Linked DNA regions of Homo sapiens: regions 1, 2 and 3 are each reported to be linked to region 4. Evidence: microRNA targets listed by miRTarBase, many of them from high-throughput screens and not tested one by one. Region 4 holds a microRNA gene; each other region holds the end of a gene's coding sequence.

The links. The annotated mature microRNA hsa-miR-4701-5p reads UUGGCCACCACACCUACCCCUU and lies in region 4 at 3,851-3,872, shown strand. An mRNA with a match to its seed (bases 2 to 7 or 8) in the 3' UTR can be bound and repressed. Matches are read on the target gene's strand: a 7mer-m8 pairs with bases 2 to 8, a 7mer-A1 pairs with bases 2 to 7 and ends in A, and an 8mer does both.
Region 1: miRTarBase lists ZNF76 as a target of hsa-miR-4701-5p. Seed matches in the 3' UTR shown: 7mer-m8 at 4,537-4,543.
Region 2: miRTarBase lists ZNF607 as a target of hsa-miR-4701-5p. The part of its 3' UTR that is shown has no 7-base or 8-base seed match.
Region 3: the mRNA of COQ7 is a reported target of hsa-miR-4701-5p. Seed matches in the 3' UTR shown: 7mer-A1 at 3,874-3,880.

What each region holds. Positions count from the first base shown.
Region 1 is chr6:35,294,889-35,299,888 of GRCh38, reverse strand. It overlaps ZNF76 (zinc finger protein 76), which reads right to left. Exons shown (of 14, transcript NM_003427.5): 14 at 3,904-4,745. The coding sequence ends at 4,641. It overlaps DEF6 (DEF6 guanine nucleotide exchange factor), which reads right to left and starts at 2,071. Exons shown (of 11, transcript NM_022047.4): 1 at 1,937-2,071. The coding sequence starts at 2,032. RefSeq lists a silencer at 3,570-3,734.
Region 2 is chr19:37,693,533-37,699,524 of GRCh38, forward strand. ZNF607 (zinc finger protein 607) reads right to left here. Exons shown (of 5, transcript NM_032689.5): 5 at 2,839-5,992. The coding sequence ends at 4,508. It also overlaps the pseudogene SELENOKP1. Among named protein-coding and RNA genes, the nearest start is that of ZNF607, 23 kb to the right of the region's middle. RefSeq lists enhancers at 1,644-2,319, 2,996-3,670.
Region 3 is chr16:19,076,759-19,082,750 of GRCh38, reverse strand. COQ7 (coenzyme Q7, hydroxylase) reads right to left here. Exons shown (of 6, transcript NM_016138.5): 5 at 5,377-5,445; 6 at 2,656-4,670. The coding sequence ends at 4,593. Among named protein-coding and RNA genes, the nearest start is that of COQ7-DT, 12 kb to the right of the region's middle.
Region 4 is chr12:48,769,894-48,775,885 of GRCh38, reverse strand. MIR4701 (microRNA 4701) reads left to right here and starts at 3,849; the gene lies at 3,849-3,911. It overlaps ADCY6 (adenylate cyclase 6), which reads left to right. Exons shown (of 22, transcript NM_015270.5): 10 at 188-213; 11 at 436-583; 12 at 832-929; 13 at 1,108-1,195; 14 at 1,368-1,484; 15 at 1,788-1,946; 16 at 2,239-2,417; 17 at 3,343-3,378; 18 at 3,462-3,591; 19 at 3,913-4,176; 20 at 4,916-5,120. It also overlaps a transcript of SPMIP11 not described here.

The DNA of each region.
Region 1 (5,000 bases), not on the chromosome of region 4:
GGAATCCCCGCCCCCCAACACTATCACTACTTCCTCCTCTTCCAATATTCACTATTATGGGCTTGAAAGGAGCCCCGCCATTTCCGCCCCACCCCCACTTGGCCCCTGAGACTCCCACTGTTAGCCCAGGTTTCCAGAGTTGACAAGTTTTCTGTCAAGTAGGAGGGAACTCTATAATTGATCCTGTGTGACCAGAGATGTTGCTGGCAGTAGGTTCAATATGAGCTGTGATGAGGTACAGACAGTGGACAGTTCAAGCATGCAAGCTCTCCATGGAGTATTTCCCTAGAAATACGCAACCTGTGGGGATGAGGGAGTGGGTAGTGGCCCTTTTAGAGGGCAAGACAGAGGCTCAAGCTAGGAGGCTTTACTGGCTGATGGCACCAGGAAAAGGGGAGCCACTTAAAGGCTGTACTTTCCATGTGAAGGGCAGAGAGAGCCTGGAGAGGTCTCAGTGGCCACAGGTAATACAGAAGTGGAAAATGTTACCCTGGAAGCAAAAAGCCACGGGGGCTGGTATTGTCTGGCAAGATATTAAAGGGACAGGGTGGGAGGTAGGGGTGGGACACAGAGTTTGCAGAAATGGATTTTGGATGATCGACTTTTTTCCATTTATACTGAGGACCCAACCAAATGACATGATCTGCAATACAAGAGATTTAAATAGGATGTAAGGAAGAATCTGCCTGTTAGGAGGTTCTCCCTAGGTGACAAAAGATAGTAGTGGGCTCTCCTTCCTGGGGGAGTGAAATCATCTATTAGATGCTCACAAATCCAGGTAAGGAATTTAACATAGGACCAGTTTGGGATATTCAAGTTCCTCACATCCAAGTTCAGTAAAGTAGGGGGTTGGAACGGTGGTGGGGCACAATAACTGTTCTGTCCCATTCATCTCTCAGGTATCCAGCACCCTCTACCTCGGTCATTAAGAATGGAGGTTTCCTTGAGACCACACGTCTCCTTTGGAGGATGGGGCAGGGAGACACCAGTTTAGTGCCTAGCCACATGCCAGGCACAGAGCCTCACGAGGGGCACTCAAGTACTTGCAGAGTGAACGAAGGCACCCCTATGGCAGGTCCTAGAGAGCTGAGGCCTACCTTGCTCCTTTCCCCCAGTGTTCGCTGATTCTAGTGGCTGAGGGCCTTGCTTCCTCCCCACTAACTAGGGTAGGGAAGGCAGCACTACTGGAGGACTAGAGGAAGAGAGAGAAAAACTCCTTGGCCTCCCAGAAATTGTCTAGGCCAGATGATTGACTTCAGGACAATCATTGATTGGGATTTTCCTGGGCTTAGATTCTCCCCCTTCCCTACCTGAGGTCTCAAGGCCTAAGGTAAGTTTCCCAACCTGATATGTGTGGTGGATAGGGGGGTGAGCTGCGTAGCAGTATAATAGGGTCCTCAGTCCTCACCCACTCCGCAGCTCTGTCCCACCTGGCGGGCAGGGTTAGACAGGCCAGACAGGTTTGGGACTGGGGGCGGCCCCTTTATGCCTCTCTCAGCTCCAGAGGAAATGACTGCCAAGCACTGGCTAACTGTTTCTCTTGAAAGTCAGGAGGAAGCAGCAAGAAAGAGCACACTGCGTGCCCAAGCATGACTCTGTGGAGGTGTGTGTGCTCATCACACAGAGTCTGGGATGTGGCCTGGCTCCTGGCCCTCAGAACCCCATAATGGCCCTCAGAACCTCCTGGCCTCCAGTTGTGGGGCCCAGTTCTGCGCAAGGTTTCTGCACACACTTCACTAGGTCTCTGGAGGGTGGGCAGCGGCATCTACCAGGCTACGTTGGCCCAGTTACCCAGGACCAGCCCCCCGACCCCAGGCCCGGGACGCTGGATGGCTGGGTGCCCCTGGAGTGGCACAGTGTCCACACCTGGCTCCCAGGCGGCAGGGGCTGGTGTGGTGCATCTGCCGTCCTCCCCCGGGTCCCGGGTGCCCCTCACCTTGAGCTGGGACTTGGAGACTTTGCCACTCTTCTCCACGTCCAGCGCGGTAAAGGCGTACCAGATGGACTTGAGCAGTTCCTTGCGCAGGGCCATGGCTGAGGCGCCCGCCCGGCTGGGGGCGGCTCTGACACTAAGATCCGGTTTCAGGAAATGCAAACGGCTGCAGAGACCGCAGAGGTGCCGTGGTGGAGCGAGAGCACCACCTGCCTGCACATTGCGTGAGGCTCTGTGCTGTCGAGAACCCTGCCTGTTGTTCTGGCAGTGCTCAGAGGCTCCACTCCCTGCATGGGAACTGGGGACCAACTCTCCGAGAGCGGGAACCCTCGTTCTGTATCCACGTGGCTCCCGGGGCATGTGAGGCCCTTTTAGAAGCCTCCTCAGACCCGGAGGCTTCTGGAGCCTTCCAGGGCTCCCAGACGCAGCTTGCTGAGGGAAAAAGCAAGCTCATCCTGATATTGGGGTCAGACAGAGTAAAGGTCCAGTCCTAGTTCAACATAGGAGGCCTTGGGTAAGTTACTTAACCTCCTTGAGCAGTTTCCTCATTTGTAAAGCAGGAAAAATGCCTCCGTGTTGTAAGAATGTCTGAGAATGGACGTAAAGCACATAGTAGGCTCTGGGTAGAGCTTTTGGTGCTACTTAACATTACCATGGTGGTGGGACTCCATCCAAGTGGAAGGAAACAAAGGCAACATCACAAAGCTGGAGAAGGAAATGGGCCAGGGCACCTCTCCAGGTCAGGATGTGGCACTTGACTTGCTGGCTCCCTATCCCCTCAGCACTGGCTCTAAACGGTACTCAGAGCACTGCCCACTCTAGCCCCAGTAGCCCTGAAGACACTGGAAACTTCCTGAAACACATGGGGGTGAGCCTTGTGGTGCACCTCAACTTTAAGGGTCCCAGCAGCAGCAGGCTTGGGATTCAGGGCCCTCCATGTCAGTGCTTCCTTTCTTCAGATCCAGTGTCCAAAAGGACTGGGACACGCCCACACCAGGAATGGTGGTCACAGATGTTGAAGACATCTGCTCAGGCCAATTCTAAGACACCTCCCCCTACCCCCTAAGCCAAATAAAAATCCCTCCAAGTAAGGTGCTGGGAATACCTCCTGCCTGGAAGCACGCCCCCGCCCCTCTCTTCCCAAGGAGCTGGTGGCAAGAGTAAATGGGAGCTTTCTAGGCATCCTGGGAGAGGATGCCTGGATCAGAGGAGGGGGTTCCAATCCTAGGAGGCAGGAAGGGGTTGGGGCATATCCATCACAGCAGAGAGAGGAAAAGAGGCACCACCAATCCCTGCAATGTTCCTGTGTAGGCAGAGTCAAACCCAGAGCTTCTTCCCATCAAGTGCCTTCCCCTGTATCCCTTCTTCCCCCTGGAGCTGATCTGGTCTCACCAACTCACTTTTCAGTGGGGTCTGATTGTGGCTTTGAAATCCCACAGCACAGTCCTAGGCACCTAGGTGGGCACCCCCAGAGCTGGGTAATAGAGCCAAGACTTCAGCTCCAGAGGCATCAGACTCTGCTCCTTGAATCTCAGTAACCTTGGCAAAGGTGTCCCCCAGCCTCACTCTAACCTGGGGCTTTGCCCTCTTGGAGAAGCTGACTGTGTGATTTGGGGGTGGCTGGGTTGGAGGGGCTCTGACTACGTTTCACAAGAAAAGGCAGGAAAAGAGTTCCCCCAGCTCAATCACATGAGGCCTGAGATTCAGCCAGAGCCTGGAAGCAGCGGTCACCCTGGTCCTGTTTGGCTACCCTGGAGCCCACCTGCTCAGCTGTGGGCAAGAAGCCACCAGCAGCTCCTCAGGGCTTTATCTTATACTGGGCTTCCTTCCCACCTGTGTCCCTGGCAGGCCAGCCCCACCACTCTGGCACCAAGGCTGAGTGGGGTTTGTGCCAGGGAGACAGGGCTGATAGCCTGATTTGACCAACCCTGCCACCCGGGCCTAGAGCTGAAAGGATGGAGGGACCCAGGTGGAAATTTGGAACTTTTATTAAATACTCATTCATCCATGTGCCACCACCACCCAGAGCAGGAAAAAAATTATCAAAATGGAATTAAAAAAAACAAAACAAATCAAACCCAATCCCCAGCAGTCTATGTACAGGGCCACTCCCTGCCTCTCTGCCATAGAGAGGTTGGGGGGCAGCTGAGGAGTGGTGGGGGCTGGGCACCTTTTCTTCAGCCACAGGCCCCTGAGGAATTAATTGACTGTGGTGTCAGGAAGTCCCTGGTGCCAAGTAGCCAGGCATCTCAGCTGGCCTCCAGGGAGGTGGTTATTGCTGGGAGGGCAGGACAGGGCCTGCTCCACTGCTACTGGGCTGAAGAGCTGTCTGTGGCTCAACCCTACAGGGCCAGTCCCCATAGCAGCCCCAATCTCTACCTGAGAAGGGGAACAGACTGAGGGCCAGAAGGGTGTTCTTTAGGAGGAGAGTGGGCGCCCAGCTGATTTTGAGAGGCGGGTGCCCTGGTGTAGCCTGGCTGTTGTCAGCTCCCGAGGATGATGCACTCCCCTGATTCCAGCTGCCTGGCCCCCTTCTTGAGCAGGGCCCCCATTCCCTTCAGTTAGGCAGTTTTCTTGCTGTCTTCTCACCCCAGAGACCTATGTGGCCACCTTCTATGTGTCAGCCACAGCCTGGGCCCTTGGGGGCAAGAGTGGCCATGCAGATGGCACTTCCTCCAGCATGGTGTGGGACCCAGCCCTCTTGGACTCAGCAGCCACTCTCCGACACTGTTGTCTCCAGGGTCACAGCCCCTTGCTGCATGGCCGCAGTGGCCACATTGATGGCCTCCTCTAAGGTCTGCTGTTCCTCCAGCTGTGGGGAAGGGGGTGCAGAAGGAAGGAGACAGTGAGACCCTCCCTGCTAGATTCCAGTGTTAGTAATATGTGGCCTACTTTTTTTTTTGACTCTCCCCCATCTACCCAGTGCCACACGCTGAGCACTTAGTAGGGCTCCAATAAACATGAAGTTCACGGATGAAGAGTCCTATTAGGCTAGGCATGGCCAGGGGGCCCTGGAATAGCCAGGGTCAGAGAGACCCACTTGCTCACGGAGGAAGGACTGGCTGAA
Region 2 (5,992 bases), not on the chromosome of region 4:
TCCAACACTTGTGCGTTTGAGATGTAAACCATCTTGCCCCCATTCCCTGCTTCGGAGCCTTATTTATTACTTTTTAAAAACAGGGTCTCCCTATGTTGCCCAGGCTGGCCTTGAACTCCTGGGTTCAAACGATCCTCCCGCCTCTGCCTCCCAAAGTGCTGGGATTACAGGCATTAGCTCCTGGCATTTTAATTTGTTTTCTTTTTGTTGCATGTTTCCTTTTTCTCTCCTTTCTTTATGTTGGATTGATGTATTACTATTCCAATTTTCTCTTTAATAGTTTGTAGGTTCTTTAAGTCATTACTCCAGGAATTTTAATAAGTCCAAATTTATCAATACTCTGACTCTCCTCTCACAGAATGCATTCAATTTCATATGCCCTCTTAAATTTAAAATACAAGATATCAGTTACATATTCGTTTTGTTTAAAAAAACCTCTCTAGGCTGGGCGTGGTGGCTCACGTCTGTAATCTCAGTACTTTGGGAGGCCGAGGTGGGCCGATCACAAGGTCAGGAGATCAAGACAATCCTGGCCAACATGGTGAAACTAAAATACAAAAATTAGCTGGGTGTGGTGGCGCGTGCCTCCACACCCAGCTAATACCAGTAGAATACCAGCTACACAGGAGGCTGAGGCAGGAGAATTGCTTGAACCAGGGAGTCAGAGGTTGTGGTGAGCTGAGATTGTGCCACTGCGTTCCAGCCTGGTGACAGAGCGAGACTCCGTCTCAACAAACAAACAAAAATCTCTCTGATGTTATACTATTATTTTGTCAGTATTCATTTACATTTACTCAGAACATTAACATAAATATAAGTGGTGTTCAAATAAACAGAATGTTTAGGTTTTGTCAAAGAGAAATACAGTGGGGCTGGGCGCAGTGGCTCATGCCTGTAATCCAGTGCTTTGGGAGGTTAAGGCAGCTGGATTGCTTGAGGCCAAAAGTTTAAGAGCAGCCTGGGCAAAATAGTGAGACCCCATGCCTACAAATTTTTTTTTTTTTAATTAGCTGGGCCTGGTGGTCTACACCCATAATCCCAGCTACTCTGGAGGCTGAGGCCAGAGGATCACTTGAGCCCAAGAGCTATGGATGGCATGACTACACTGCAGCCTAGGCCACAGACCTAGACCCTGTCTTAAGAAACAAAAAGGCCAGATGCAGTGGCTAACACCTGTAATCCCAGCACTTTGGGAGGCCAAGGTGGGCAGATCGCCTGAGGTCAGCAGTTCAAGACCAGACTAGCCAACATGGTGAAACCCCGTGTCTACTAAAAATACAAAAATTAGCCAGGCGTGGTGGTGTGCACCTGTAATCCCAGCTACTCAGGAGGCTAAGGCAGGAGAATGGCTTGAACCTGGGAGGCGGAGGTTGCAATGAGCCGAGATTGCACCATTGCACTCCACCCTGGGTGACAAGAGCGAGACTCCGTCTCAAAGAAAAGAAAAGAGTCCAAGCGTGGTGGCGTACGCCTGTAATCACAGCACTTTGGGAGGCCGAGGTGGGTGGATTGCCTGAGGTTATGAGTTCAAGCCTGGCCAACATAGTGAAAGCCCATCTCTACTAAAAATATAAAAATTAGCGGGGTGTGGTGGCACATGCCTGTAATCCCAGCTACTTGGGAGGCTGAGGCAGGAGCATCACTTGAACCCAGGAGGCAGAGGTTGCAGTGAGCCGAGATCATGGCCACTGTACTCCAGCCTGGGCCACAGAGCCAGACTGCATCTCAAAAAAACAAAAACAAAAAAAAAAAAAGAAAAGAAAAAGAAACAAAGTGAGACAATAGTAAAAGGCAGTAAAGACAGATTTTATTCAGTAATAACTACTGCATTAGGGAACAGAATCCAGTGTGAACTGAGCTCCACTTTGGGAAACAAAAATCAGGAGTTGTTGAAAATGTTGGGGTGTACTAAAGAAGACACTGAAAGGTGTTACGGGGGAGTTTGGTCCATATGACTAAGGCATCAGGTTTTTTTTTTTTTTTTTTTTTAACTAATTGGTATTTATCCAGAGTAGAAACAAACTTCTTGTATCTTTACGACTGAGGTAGTTGTGAAAGTTGGAGCAAGACAGCCACCAAAGTTAGGCCCTTACACTCCCACAGCAACTGAGAGGCTGGAGCAAGAGCTGGCTCTCTGAATGTTTGCATTTCAAACTCAGCTGAGGAGACAGCTCTTGGTGGTAGATTTGCATCTCAAAGGGGCAGAGAAATGGTTTATAATTGCAAGCTTTCTAAAGTAACTGCTTTAAGAGGGGGCTTAAGGACCTATCACTATTTACAGGTTTTGGCTGGAACAGTATGTTTTCAGAACAGCATTGAGCTTTCTCAGGCAGGTTTTTTTTTTTTTGAGATGGAGTCTTGCTCTGTCACCCAGGCTGGAGTGCAGTGGTGTGATCTCCGCGCACCGCAATTGCCACCTCCCGGGTTCAAACAATTCTCCTGCCTCAGCCTCCCGAGTAGCTGGGATTACAGGCGCCTGCCACCACGCCCAGTTAATTTTTGCATTTTTAGTAGAGACGGGGTTTCACCATGTTGGCCAGTCTGGTCTTGAACTCCTGACCTCCAGTGATCCACCCACTTTGGCCTCCCAAAGTGTTGGGATTACAGGCGTGAGCCACACTGCCCAGCTTACATCTGAATTTCATTCCAGGATTAAGTGTCTGATTCACCTAAACAGATCGGAATGAAAGCCCTCTTATGGTTTTTACTTATTATCTGTTTACCCAGAATGAATTCAAATTTAAAAAGCATAAAACTTTTTTGAATTCATTAAACTTGAATGGTTAATGGTTTTCATTTCGTCAAAATGCACTAAAAATAACACAAGTAATGATATTATTATATACAGAAGCTAATGTTTATTGAACGTAACAGTATATTTCATGTAGTTTCCCATAATTTTTTCATGTACTAACTCATGTAATTCTTTGTTTTTTAGAGATCTGAAGTGATTTTACCTTTACTTCCTTCACTTTAAGCCAATCATGAAATTTCAGTGATTTCTGGGGTGAGGGCGAAAGGTGGTGTTACGAATCATCGGGGCTGTGGCCCAGTTGCCTCACGGAGGTGCAGGTAGGCTGGGGCCTCACTAGGGCAGCTGGAGGAGCACGGACTGCCCTGCCGGCAGGCAGGTGATGTTCCGAGAGCATGAGAGCTGGTATGCAATGTCTTCTGCAGCTTCCAGCTTGCACAGCTCGCTCTGGCCGTCCCCTGCAGTGGCCAGTGAGTTGGCGATCAGCTCAGCTGCCTTGGAGTCACCCTCAGCAGAGATGATGGCCGCCTTTTCCACCACAAATCTGGCGCTCTCTGCTTCCTGGGGGGCCACCTGTCTGTTAACTCCTTCAAGAAGGTCAGATGTGTCAAAGACACGTCGTCCAGAATGAGCCCAAAGGTGGCTGCTCACTCCATAAGGTTGTTGCTCACCTGGCTGGAGACCAGCTCCCTCTGGGTGATTAGTTCTCCAGCATCAAAGCGAGCCACCAGTGACTTGAGGATCTCCGTGGTAATGAACGGCAGCACACACTCATCGTAGTCCTCTCCAATGCTGGTGAAGATGCGAGGAAGCTGGCTAGTGATGGGCCGGAAGAGGATGCACAGTGTGATGTTGACATTCTGTAAATCTTTGCTACCAGTGATGACTGGCGCACTACGTGGTTGAGAACAGCAGTCAAAGATAATTGGTTTTTGTACACATGGGATGAGAAAGTGAGTCCCTTCCCCTACCACAATGTTCTGTACTCCACGGAATTGGTCAAAGATGGCAGCTCTGTGCCCAGCATCCACATTACATAAGGCAGAGTTCACCATGCCTCCTGCAACAGCTAAGGCCAGGCCAAACTTGCCGATGGACTCAAACACTTTGGCAGCCATGTTTTCTTCTGCGGGACCCTCTCACACCTGCTTCCACTCTGACCTCCACATCTAACTCATGTAATTCTAACAGCACTATACTGTAGGTACTACTATCATCATTTATATATGATCCCCAGAAGGGATAAATATCTTCCCCCATATCATCCCAGCTATAGGAAGCAGATGTTGATCATGAGCATTAAATATGCAGAGTGGCTAAATAGCCTTTCCCATCATCGCTTATATCAACAGAGGTTTCCTGTGTAATGGCTTTTTCCAGGTTTAACAATAAATGATTGTTGCTGGAAGATGTTTACATGCAAGTATAAAGAATGGTTTCCTACGTTTTCTCAGTTTTCCTCTACTGTGAATATTTTGGCAATCCAAAACTAGAGGAATATCAGAAAAGTTTTCTTATGTTATTAAAAAAATACATTATAAATTCTCTGAATCTGAGTTAACACAGGTCATACCAAAGAAACTGCATATATGATTTACATTTTGAAAAGTTCACACCAATACAAATTGATGCCTAATAAAAACTGAACTGTATCTCAAAGCCATTCCACATTGTCTTCATTCAAATTGTTCAGTGGGATAAATCCATTGACACAATGTGCTTTCTTTACTACCTGTATATGCCACAATTTCTCTATCAAATATGAATTCTCTGATGTACTTCAAGGATGGATCTAAGCCTAAAGGACCTTCTGCATTTGTTACATTTAAAGGGTTTCTCACCAGTATGAACTCTATGATGTATACTAAGTTCATGGCTACTATTAAAAGCTTTCCCACACTCTTCACACATATAGGGATTTCCATCAGCATGAACGCTTTCATGTCTAACAAGATATGAGGCACAGTGAAATGCCTTCCCACATCTTTTACATTCATAGGGTTTATCACTGGTATGAATTCTCTCATGAATAATAAGATGTGAAGCATGACTAAAAGTTTCCCCACATTCTTTACATTCATAGGACTTTTCACCAGCATGAGTTCGGTCATGATATATGAGGCTTGTGGCATGACGAAAGGCCTTGCCACATTCCTTACATTCGTAGGGTTTCTCAGCGCTATGAATATTCTGATGGGCTTTAAGTACAGAAATGAACCTAAAAGACTTCCCGCATTTGTTGCATTCAAAGGGTTTCTTACCACTGTGAATACTCAGATGCTGAGTAAGTTGTCCAGATACACTAAAGGCCTTCCCACATTCCTTACATTCATAAGGTTTCTCACCAGTATGAACTCTGCGATGTATAGTGAGTTTATGGCTATAACTAAAACCCTTCCCACACTCTTGACATACATAGGGTTTCTCTCCTGTATGAATTCTCTCATGTATAACAAGATATGAGGCACAACGAAAGGACTTCCCACATTCTTTACATTCAAAGGGTTTGTAACCAGTATGAATTCTGTTATGATGGGCAAGGTGTGCACGCTGACTGAAGGCCTTCCCACATTCCTTACATTTGTAGGGTTTCTCACCGGTATGAATATTTTGATGTATTTTAAGGGATGAATTGAGCCTAAAGGACTTCCCACATTTGTTACATTCATAGGGTTTCTTACCACTATGAATACCCTGATGTCGAGTAAGTCGTCCATGCACACTAAAGGCTTTCCCACATTCCTCACACTTATAAGGTTTCTCAACACTTTCAAATGTATGAGGTGCAGTAAGTTGATGGCCACTACTAAAAGCCTCCCCATTTTCTTTACATTCATAGTGTTTCTCCCCTGAATAAATTCTCTGATGCATGGTAAGTTGATACCTACATGTAAAGCCCTTCCCGCATTCCTTGCATTCATAGGGTTTTTCTCCAGTATGAATTCTTTTATGACCCACAAGGTGGGAAAACTGACGAAAGGCCTTTCCACATTCCTTACATTCATGTGGCTTCTCTCCAGTATGAATACTCTGATGTACTTTAAGGCCTGCTTTGAGCCTAAAGGACTTCCCACATTTGTTACATTCAAAGGGCTTCTCACCAGTGTGAATACTCTGATGTCGACTAAGTCGTCCATACACACTAAAGGCCTTGCCACATTCCTTACATTCGTAGGGTTTCTCACCATAATGAAATCTATGATGTACAGTAAGTTGACGGCTAGTCCTAAAAGCTTCCCC
Region 3 (5,992 bases), not on the chromosome of region 4:
CTGTTGCCCAGGCTGGAATGCAGTGGTGTGATCTCAGCTCACTGAAATCTCTGCCACCTGGGTTCAAGCGATTCTCCTGCCTCAGCTCGTGAGTAGCTGGGACTACGCCCGGCTAATTTTTGTAGTTTTAGTAGAGACGGGGTTTCACCATCTTGGCCAGGCTGGTCTTGAACTCCTGACCTCGTGATGCACCTGCCTCAGCCTCCCAAAGTGCTGGGATTACAGGCGTGAGCCACTGCAACTGGCCTAAACTTTTTTTTTTTTCTTCTCAAAGTCACCCAGGCTAGACTGTTCTGGTGCTCTCATAGCTCACTGCAACCTCAAACTCCTGGACTCAAGCGATCCTTCCACCTTGGCCTCCCAAAGTGCTGAGATGACAGGCATGAGCCACTGTGCCTGGCCCCATTTTAACCATTTTTAAGAATACATTCCATTGACATTAAGTACATTCACATTGTTGTTCAATAATCAACGTCATACATTTCCAGAACTATTTTCATCTTCCCATACTGAAACTCTGGACCCAAGCATAATATTTTTAAGGTTCATCCATGTTGTATCATGTATCACTACTTTATTCCTTTTTATAGCTGAGTAAGATTGCCTTGTTTGGGTATATTGCCATTTTGTTCATCAGTTGATGGACATGAGTTGTTTCCACTTTTAGTTATTATGAGCATTCATGTACAAGGATTGGTTTGAACATGTTTTCTTTTTTTCTTTTTTTTTGGGATGGAGTTTCACTCTTGTTGCCCAGGCTGGAGTAAAATGGCATGATCTCAACTCACGGCAACCTCCGCCTCCTCTAGAATATTGATCCAGATCCAGATTTCTATATTAACCATCCCTTGTTTCTTCTGAGCTTCAGCCAGAGATCACTGGTTGGTTCACAGAATAAGTAGGGTTAGTCTAAAATACAGACAAAAACTTAAAAACAACTAATAAAACTAGAATTTAATGACAAGTGTGATAAGTTTTGAAACTCTCCAGTCTTCATTTTTGTTAAAAACAAATCATAATAGGATTGTTTGCAAAATAAACTTTAGTCTTATACTTGGCCTGATTATTTGCATAAAGTACAGCAAGAATAATTATTTTTCACATATGCTTTTAAAATTGGCTCTGATGGAATTCTGTTCCATAAGGAATATCAGAAAAGACTTTTTAAAGTCAAGCCCAGCAATGGGTTTGTACCCTCCAATACCTATGAGTTGGGTAAATTCCTCTCTTCTTGAGGTCCCAAGATAACTTGGGGCTCCTGGACCTGTTAGAAAGTGACATTCTTTACTCATCACAGGTTAGGAGCCCTGTACAAGGACTGTGTAGACAAGGTATGAGGCCAGTTTCTCCTTTTTTTTGGCTCTGCAAGTCAAGCTTGATTCCTTAAAGGGAAGCACACCCTTCTATCAGAAACTGGTAAAACCACCAGTTTCTCCAATTGTGTCCTGTTGCAAAAGAAAATGGATTCTTGTTGCACTTATGCAAATAACTACATTGCCATAAGAATACTCACAAATAGTTTCTGAATTCTAGAGAAACCAGCAGAGGAACAAATACACTCCAAATTTTGTTCACAGGAGTATACCTTACTCAATTGTTAAAAGCTGTAAATAGCTCAAAATAAAAGTTTTCTTGACTCTGAAAAACAAAACATCAGCAAAGTTTTAAGCAAAAAGTTAAACAGATTACATGTCTTCTATTAGTTCAGCCCATTCAGTTAACTCTTGCTCTGCTTGATATTCATGAATATTTCAGCTCTTCATGAGTCCTGAATGTTTTTCCTTTATTCTAATATCACAATCTAAAGATATTGGAAATATGCATTTAAGAGCACCTAAGTTCTACAGCTGATTATAAACCACCTTTTGAAGAGGATCAAAACAAGACTACGATTGTCTGTGAATCACAAGATGTCTTTAGACAGTCACAGTCAAAAACACAATTGACAAAGAAATTTCGTTATTTCTGTGGTTTACAATAACTTAACATAATAACCCTAATTATAATTGATATCATATACTCAGATATTAGAATTTTAGAAATCTTATACAATTTTGGAACATATATTAATATATATATTAATGTTATTCACTAAAATGTAACCTGAATAAGATTAAACATTATTCTTATTTTGGCAATCCCATGTAATTAAACATGTCAAATAATCCAGGGGCCCTCTATGGCATCCAAAAGTTAGGGGTCAAAAAAGACAATCTTGAAGCTAAAGTTCGATTTGGGGAAGCCTACTGAACATATTAAAGGTTTAAAACACTTGATATTATAAAATAGAATTCCAGGTTATCATTAGCCAAAATGATGACTCAAAAACTTTTTTAAAAAGCACAAAACCTTTACCCATTAAAAGGGAAGACAACTTTCCAAACAATTTGTCTCTTGCCTTTCCCTTCTTTTTTTGGTAGTTTATTTGCAAGGCAAACAAAAATCTTTCATTATCCTTTACTATTACATAAAAATCTTGTTCAAGACAGAGTCAAATGTCATCCTTGCATCAGTCTACTATTAATGTCATCCCCAATTTTTAATAATACCTTATAGATAAATCTATCCAATCTTAACTAGTTTGACCATGAGGTGAGATTCTTGTAAACCTTTTATAACCCTTTACAAATTCTTGTTAAAGAGCAGATCAGTACCTTAAGAAAACCTTGTTGTGCTTTTATTTCAAGGTTCAATTTACAGAAAAACCAAATAATACCCTTTTGAATTTAATCAACGTGTTCACACACAGCATTTATTTTGTAAGATTAATTTTTACAAACCATCCACAACTTGTTCAAACCTTTGGCTTTATCCTATCTAATTTCAAACAAATGCCCAGCCTTAATTTATTACAATTATGATTCGTAGACTTTCACTCAATTACATAAATTCACTCTCGGTTGAGGAAAAGAGAGAGGTGGCAGAGGATTAATCCAAAGGATCCTGGTGTCCACTACCCTTCAAAGCCAGACCCTGGTGGGGCAAGTCCTGCCAAGTCATCAGGTGCTGATTAAATGCAGGGCACTGGGTGGGAAGCAAATTCCTAAAATGTGGTTCTTTCCCAGAAGCATCTTATAATCTAGCTCAGGGGCTTGCAGCTCCAACTCACTCCGGAATCACCTGGGAGCTTCTGAAACCATTCTGATCCTGAACTCCACCCTAAATAAATCAAAACTCTTGGTCCATAAACTGAAAAAAAAAAGTTTAATCTCCACAGGACATTCTAATGGGCAGCCAGAGAGGAGATCCACTGATCTAGGTTTTTCATAAATTACTTAAAAATTTGCAAATTATAAAATATTTCATTAAAGTATGAAAATCTGAATCAGTTTTGGGGGATTTTTTTGGGGGGGAGGTGGTAAAAGACCTTAAGGAAAAGGTTGTAATTCAATTTCACAAATAATCCACAACTTAGTACATCCTTTGATGGAAGCAACACCCCCGTCTTAGTCTGTTCAGGCTGCTATAACAAAATACCACAGTCTGGGTGGCTTATAAACATCAAACATTTATTGCTCACAGTCCTAGAGGCTGGGAAGTCCGTGATCAAAGTGCTGGCTGATTTTGCTTGTGAAGGGTCTGCTTCCTCAGAGAAGTCTCATACTTCCCCTTGAAGTCTCACACTGTGGAGAGGATGAGGTATCTCTCTAGGGCCTTTCATAAGGCACTGATCCCATTCATGAGGGCTCCACTCTCATGACCTCACACTTCCCAAGGGCCCCACCTTCTATCAACTTGAGAGTGAAGATTTCATCGTATGAATTCTAGGGAGACACAGACATACAGACTGTAGCACTCTCCCACCCATTATCACCCACAATTCAAAACAGAAACGATGATCTTTGACTTACTTGATGGACTTCATAGTTCTGCTTGGCCAATCTCAAATACTCTCATGTTTCCAATTATCTTTTGTTATCAGTAAACCAAATTGTTTTTTCTCCTAAAGATTCCTGTTACATTATTAATGATTTGTCCTTGAAGTTTTAGGAGAAAATGGGCCTGGTGAAGTGGCTCACACCTGTAATCCCAGCACTTTGGGAAGTCGAAACGGGAGGATCACTGAGCCCAGGAGTTAGAGACCAGCCTGGCGACATAGTGAGACTTCGCCTCTATAAAAAAATAGAATTAGCCAGCTGTGGTGGTGCACACCTGTAGTCCCAGCTACTTGGAAGGCTGAGGTGGGTGGATTGCTTGAGGCTAGGAGGTCCAGGCTGCAGTGAGTTGTGACCCGGCCTGGACAAAAGAGCGAGGCCCTGTCTCCAAAAAACATAAAATAAAATAAAATATATATATATGCATGTAAAAGAAAAACATGTATATAAAAGAAAATTAAGTATGAGACCAAACAAGGCCCAGCTTCGTTTGCTGTAACTTGAACAAGGCTGGTGACCTGTTGGTCTCATGGCAGAAAAAACAACCCAGAGAAAAATCAACACTGCAGAGTTTAAAAAAAAAAAAACAAACCTTATAATTTATTAACAAAATTCACATTGTACAAAAGTACAACGATAACTGTACACCTGTTTCTCTGCAAATGTCACTTGGTAAATTACTATCATCTTTTATAGACAGGCAAAACTGGACACACTTTATAATCTTTCTGATAAATATATCGCCACTCTGCATCCGGCCTGGATAATGCTCTTCAGGACGGCATAGGCTGGAGCCTGTTAAAAACAATAAGCAAACAAAGAAACATGTTATGTGCTCATTTTCGGTTGTAAGATTCAGGGCTGGCAGGGCAGGCTTTGGATTTCTCTGGATAAGAAATAGATCTAAGGAACAATTTATTTTAGTTTCAAAGAAAGCTATTCAAAAGGTCGGAATGCCTCTGCTACTACTGCCAAAGCATTGGAGTCATCCAGATTCTCACAGGAAAGGAAATGAAGCTCCTGGGAGACCAAGGCAGGCAGCTCACCTGAGGTCAGGAGTTCGAGACCAGCCTGGCCAACACAGTGAAAACTCGGTCTCCACTAAAAATAAAAAATACAAAAATTAGCCAGGCATGGTGGCATGCACCTGTCATCCCAGCTACTTGGGAGGCTGAGGCAGAATTGCTTGAACCTGGAAGGAGGAGGCTGCAGTGAGCTAAGACTGCACCACTGCACTCCAGCATGGGAGACAGAGTGAGACTGTGTCTGGGAAAAAAAAAAAAAAGCTTCTGGGGAAAAGGAGAAGGCATAAAGCAAGAAAGGAGATTCCCAATCTGGAGCAATAATGCGTTTGCTTGCTTTTTGTCAAAGCAACGTCATTGGTTTTCTCTCCCTTTCGCTGTCACTTTAAAATGTATTTTTCTGGCAACAGAAACCTCCTGCCCCTTCAGCCTCCCAAATAAGGAGTCCCAAAGCAGAACAGGTAACAGTAGGGCCCTACCAATTCTGCATCATGGTCGAGGCCTATGTCATGGTGCTCAAGCTCTTCATCCCGAAATTTCTTTATCAGCTGGTTAAATAAAAAGACACCAAAGCAAGTTAGCCTTCCAACTCTCCTGCTGTTCCATTTCATTTTGGAGGCTAAAGCCTCTTATTATGGCCTAAGACAGGGAGGCCAGCTTTTCCTCTAAAGGGCCAGAGAGTAAATACTTTGTTGCAACTACCCAACTCTGCCACTGTAACCAGAAAAGCAGCCGGAGACATGCAAACAAATGGACGTGCTTGTGTTCCAATAAAAGTTTATTTAAAGAAACAGGTGGCTGGCCACAGGCCATAGTTTGCCAACCTCAGATTTAGACTCTAAAAAACTAAACAGTTCCCTTATTTGCTGTGGAAAATTATCTCAGGATATCTATTCATTTATTCAATCTAAAGGGTTCCTGCTCACAGCATCTGCTCAGAATCTACCAATGATAAAGAAGTGGGCCGGGCGCGGTGGCTCACGCCTGCAATCCCAGCACTTTAGGAGGCCAAGGCAGGAGGATCACCTGAGGTCAGGAGTTCCAGACCAGCCTGGCCAACATGGTGAAACCCCGTCTCTACTAAAAATACAAAAA
Region 4 (5,992 bases):
CTTGTGACTGCCATTTCCATGTATGCTTTCTGGTATTGGGGCAGTGAGAAGATTTCATCTCGGGTCCCAGTGCCCCCAGAGGATATGACGGGGACACCCTCAGCACAGTGTTGGGGTGGGGGAAGGAGCTGCAGAGATGAAGGTTGTTGGCCCTTCACCTCACTCCACACTCTGTCCCTTTCTCCAGGGCATTGATGATTCCAGCAAAGACAAGTAAGTCAGGTTACTGAGGAGGGAGAAGGCACTTGCACCCTGGGATGGGGCTGGGGGGAGCCGAGATCCTCCTTTTCCCTGACCTTAGGAGTGTTGTGTGGGAGCAGGAGCCACCCCCCTGGCTCTCCCTCCCTCCCTCAGGTGCTGTCCATACCTTTCCTTTCATTGTTTCTCACATGGCCATGCCCATGCAACTGGTGAAACCATGTCTCCTGCCCTCAGCCGGGGCACCCAAGATGCCCTGAACCCTGAGGATGAGGTGGATGAGTTCCTGAGCCGTGCCATCGATGCCCGCAGCATTGATCAGCTGCGGAAGGACCATGTGCGCCGGTTTCTGCTCACCTTCCAGAGAGAGGATCTTGAGAAGAAGGTTTGAGGGATACAGGGCAGAAGGACAAGGGCTGGGGGAGGGGCAGGTCGCAGCAGGGAAGGCTGAGCACAGGTGAGGGCACAGGTGTTTCTGGGGGATGGAGAAGGGACCACAGAGCAGGGTGAGGATTTCATCAGTTGAGCCAACTGCATCTCCTCCCTGTTGAGACCCCTGGTAGTGCCCTGTCCTTGCTGTCCCTGCCTTCCTTAGGGAGGGCCCAGCACTCAGCTCAGCCTCCTCTCCCTCAGTACTCCCGGAAGGTGGATCCCCGCTTCGGAGCCTACGTTGCCTGTGCCCTGTTGGTCTTCTGCTTCATCTGCTTCATCCAGCTTCTCATCTTCCCACAGTGAGAGCCCTGCCTTTCCTCTCTTAGCTTCTCTCTTCACCACTTCCCAGAAGCTTCCTAAATACCCACACAAGCCCACAATCCCTGGAGCCTGCATCCCTGCTTGTTCCAGAGGGTGGGACAAGAATGCCCAGATCTTCCAGAATTAAATGATTTTTCTGGCCCTGTTCTGCCCCAGCTCCACCCTGATGCTTGGGATCTATGCCAGCATCTTCCTGCTGCTGCTAATCACCGTGCTGATCTGTGCTGTGTACTCCTGTGGTTCTGTACGTAAGGGGATTTCTGAGGCTGTTGGGGAGGGCAGGCTGGACTCCAGACAGGGAGGAGGTCACATGGGGAGAGGGAGAAGGCCATGCCTCTTCCACTGGGCCCCATCCCTGGTTGCCATTCCTCCTTGGCTGATACAACCTTCAACTCTTGGTCTCTTGATGCCTCTAGCTGTTCCCTAAGGCCCTGCAACGTCTGTCCCGCAGCATTGTCCGCTCACGGGCACATAGCACCGCAGTTGGCATCTTTTCCGTCCTGCTTGTGTTTACTTCTGCCATTGCCAACATGGTAAGGGTCCAGTGGGAATTCTCCCACCTCTGCTCTGTGCCAAGCACTGTCCTGGACACTGGGAGTACAGCGGAGAAAAGGACATATTTTCTGCCCTCAGGGAGCCCCCTCCCAGAATAGGGGAAGGTTAACTCCGGTTCTCCTTCCTTGTTCTCCCAACCTCTTGTCATCCCTGAGTGAGTACTAAGGCCCATGGGGTATAAGGTACCTGGGCATAGCCCAGGTTAGGGTACATGGCTTCACCAGGTACCTTGCAACCCTTTCCCTCCTTGGTTACCCTGATATACCCCTCCACTTTTGCAGTTCACCTGTAACCACACCCCCATACGGAGCTGTGCAGCCCGGATGCTGAATTTAACACCTGCTGACATCACTGCCTGCCACCTGCAGCAGCTCAATTACTCTCTGGGCCTGGATGCTCCCCTGTGTGAGGGCACCATGCCCACCTGCAGCTTTCCTGAGGTGTTCGAGCAGTGCTCAGGCGGTGGGGGGGCTGTCCTGGCACAGACATTGGCCCTTCTGTGCCAGGCCTGGTGATGGGCGCTGGGGACCCAGGAACTCACCAGAGTCTCCCACACTAGGAGCAACCAGGGGCCCTGGTGTGTTGTAGGGGCTGGGCATGGAAGGTGGAGGATATGGGGGTTTGAGGGGTGTGGTGGGAAGGTTAGGTCAGGCAGGAGAGTGCAGGGCTCTCCCTGCCCAAGGGTGCTGTGGCCTCTGCCTTCACCCAACGCTGCCTCTGCCACCCCCGCAGTACTTCATCGGGAACATGCTGCTGAGTCTCTTGGCCAGCTCTGTCTTCCTGCACATCAGCAGCATCGGGAAGTTGGCCATGATCTTTGTCTTGGGGCTCATCTATTTGGTGCTGCTTCTGCTGGGTCCCCCAGCCACCATCTTTGACAACTATGACCTACTGCTTGGCGTCCATGGCTTGTGAGTTTATTCTCAGGTCCTTTAATACCCCAGGAGCTTCCCTCACCTTTCTAGGTCACTGTGAGCCTCTCTGGTGCCCATGCCCCTTGTGCCTTGGAATGCCACAACACCCCTGTGGGGGAAAGGGAGGAGATGGAGGAGCTCCCAGCATGTGACCCCAAATAGTTACCCCCAAGGAAACCCTAGTCCTGGGAAATCCTTGTGTCTTTAGGCTAGACATTAAAAAAAAAAATTCCCTCTTACATTTGCATGGTGCTTTCACATCCACCATCTTAACCACCTATAGGACATACAGCTGCTTGGTGGCAGGGCTCTGGTTAGGAACCAAAGCTTCTGATTCCTGCTTGGGGGCTTTGCCTGGGACACCACACTGGCTTTTCCTCTGCAAAACCCCATTCCTTTGATATGTGGCCATAGCTTGTTGTAGTAGAAAAAGCCTCTGGTCTCTGCTGGGTTTGAATCCCTGCTCTGCTGCTCATTAGCTGTGTGACTTTAGACAGGTGAGTTAGCTTCTCTGAGCCTCAATTTCTTCATCTGTAAAATGGCAATGTCACCTAAATCACAGGGTAGTTGTAAAGATTATAGTAACTAACATTTATGGAAGGCTGACTATATGGCAGGCACTGTGCTAAGCCTTTTACATACATTATTTAGATCTGATCCCTGTTGTACTGATGAGGAAGGAGGCTTAGAGAGTTAAGCGACTTGTCTCAGGTCACATAGCTGGTAAGTAGAGGAGTCTCTAAGAGCAGAGGTTTTCTTAACCTCTACTCTTAATGAGTTAATTAATGTAAGTAAAAGCCCTGGCCCAATGCCTGACTTACAGTATGTGCTCAGTAAATGCAGTCTCTTGTCTCCCCTTCCATGTGCCCACCCAGCAATCCAGGAAGCACTGATGACTTTGTCTCTTCTATCTTCTTACCAGGGCTTCTTCCAATGAGACCTTTGATGGGCTGGACTGGTAAGTGAGGGCTCCGAGGCAGCAAAGGGTAGAGCCATTAGATGCCTCCTTCAGACACCAAGCATGTCTCTGCTTATCCTTAGTCCAGCTGCAGGGAGGGTGGCCCTCAAATATATGACCCCTGTGATTCTGCTGGTGTTTGCGCTGGCGCTGTATCTGCATGCTCAGCAGGTGGAGTCGACTGCCCGCCTAGACTTCCTCTGGAAACTACAGGTGACTGTGTGGGCCTTTGGGGGAAGAGGAGGAACCTAGGGGCGGAGCCTGGGCCAGGCCAGAAATGTATCTTGTGCTAGCTGGCTAAGGCTCAGGCCACACCTAGGCCCACCCTGGTTCCATTCCTTCTCTGTGCCCATCCCTTACTCCCTGCCCCATCCTCTACCTGCCCCCTTTACCCCTTTGCCTGTTCTTTAGGCCTCATCTGTCTGGGCCTTTCTTTCTCTATGTGATTCCCTCTTATCCGCACTTCCAAGCCTTGGCCACCACACCTACCCCTTGTGAATGTCGGGCAATGGGTGATGGGTGTGGTGTCCACAGGCAACAGGGGAGAAGGAGGAGATGGAGGAGCTACAGGCATACAACCGGAGGCTGCTGCATAACATTCTGCCCAAGGACGTGGCGGCCCACTTCCTGGCCCGGGAGCGCCGCAATGATGAACTCTACTATCAGTCGTGTGAGTGTGTGGCTGTTATGTTTGCCTCCATTGCCAACTTCTCTGAGTTCTATGTGGAGCTGGAGGCAAACAATGAGGGTGTCGAGTGCCTGCGGCTGCTCAACGAGATCATCGCTGACTTTGATGAGGTACTTTTCCAGTTGGCTGGTGGTGGCAGAGAGTGGGGGGTACTTGGAGACCAGGGATTGGAATGGGTGAGTGGAACTGGGAAGAGAGAGAGAGATTTGATGGGACCCAGAGTCATCAGGGGTAAGGGTATGCACAGTGGAGGCAGAGGCAAGAACCCATGAAGGTGTCAGAGGCAGCAAGGGGGTCAGCCCTAGTGGGGCAGGGTCATCACTGTTGGGGAGCAGGGGAGGACTTGATCTGTAGGGGGATAGGATAGGTACCAGGTGGATGTCACTGAAGAAGAAGGCAATAGTCTGTGGACAGAACCTCATGAGACCAACCAAGCAAGATGGTCCTCTGAATAGAGAAAATTGAAGCAAAATGTGAGGTAGTGTCCTGAACATCCAGATCAGGAATGGGCTGTTCACTGTTCTGGAGGGAAGTCACTTGCTCACTCTGGGACTCAGTATCCCAAAAGGTAAGGATTGGAGAAATTGCTTAATATTGCACTTGTGGGTCTGTGTTCTGTGAGTGAGCTACTGGAGGGACCTTCTGAAGCTGTATGCCCAAGTCCTGCCTGGAGTCCTAGGCTGCCTGTTTTCCCAGCTCCTCAGTCTTACACTGATAGCAGCAGCTGGAAGGGGGCTCTTGAGACAGGGAAGTGGGGAAGGCAGCCAAGGCGTGGCAAGAAATGAGTGTTGGGGCAGGGCTGGGTCTGGGGTCTTTGCCTTGACAGCCAGGTCTCCTTGTGTTGTTCAGATTATCAGCGAGGAGCGGTTCCGGCAGCTGGAAAAGATCAAGACGATTGGTAGCACCTACATGGCTGCCTCAGGGCTGAACGCCAGCACCTACGATCAGGTGGGCCGCTCCCACATCACTGCCCTGGCTGACTACGCCATGCGGCTCATGGAGCAGATGAAGCACATCAATGAGCACTCCTTCAACAATTTCCAGATGAAGATTGGTAAGAGGGCTTTGTTGCTTGGCGGGTTTTCCCAGGACTTTTTCCAGGTGAAGCTGGGATTATAGGCTGGGGATGGGATCACAGATTTCCCATCAGGGCTCCTGTGGGGTTTTCTTCCCTCTGACCTCCTATATCAAGTCTGATATTAAGAACAGAGATCATTAGGCACTGTCCTATAAATTTTTGAGCATATTTTAATCCTGATACTATTATCGCCTTTCATTGGATAGAGACTGACTCTCAGAGAGATTAAATAACTTGCCCAAGGTCAAACAACTAGTAAGTGGCAGAGCTGGGATTAAAAATCAGGTTTATATAAACTTGAATACTTCTGTCCTTATCTGTGACCAGTCCAATAAGAGGTATTTCCTCTCAAATGAACTGGTGGATGGGAGTGGTTAATAGCATGGCTACTAGAGATGGACTATTTGGTTTGAATTCTGGCTGCTCCATTTACTGGCTTATTTGAGAAGTCTTCTAACTTCTCTAAGCTTCAGTTACCTTATCTATAAAATGGGGATAATAATACCTACCTTTTAGAGGTGTTGAAAGGATGAAGCCATGCCGGGCGCGGTGGATCATGCCTGTAATCCCAGCACTTTGGGAAGCCGAGGTGGGCAGATCATGAGGTCGGGAGTTCAAGACCAGCCTGACCAACATAGTGAAACCCCTTTTCTACTGAAAAAAAAAAAAAAAAAAAAATTAGGCCGGGCGCAGTGGCTCACGCCTGTAATCCCAGCACTTTGGGAGTCCGAGGCAGGCGGATCACGAGGTCAAGAGATCAAGACCATCCTGACTAACACGGTGAAATTCCGTCTCTACTAAAAATACAAAAAATTAGCCGGGTGTGGTGGTGGGCGCCTATAGTCCCA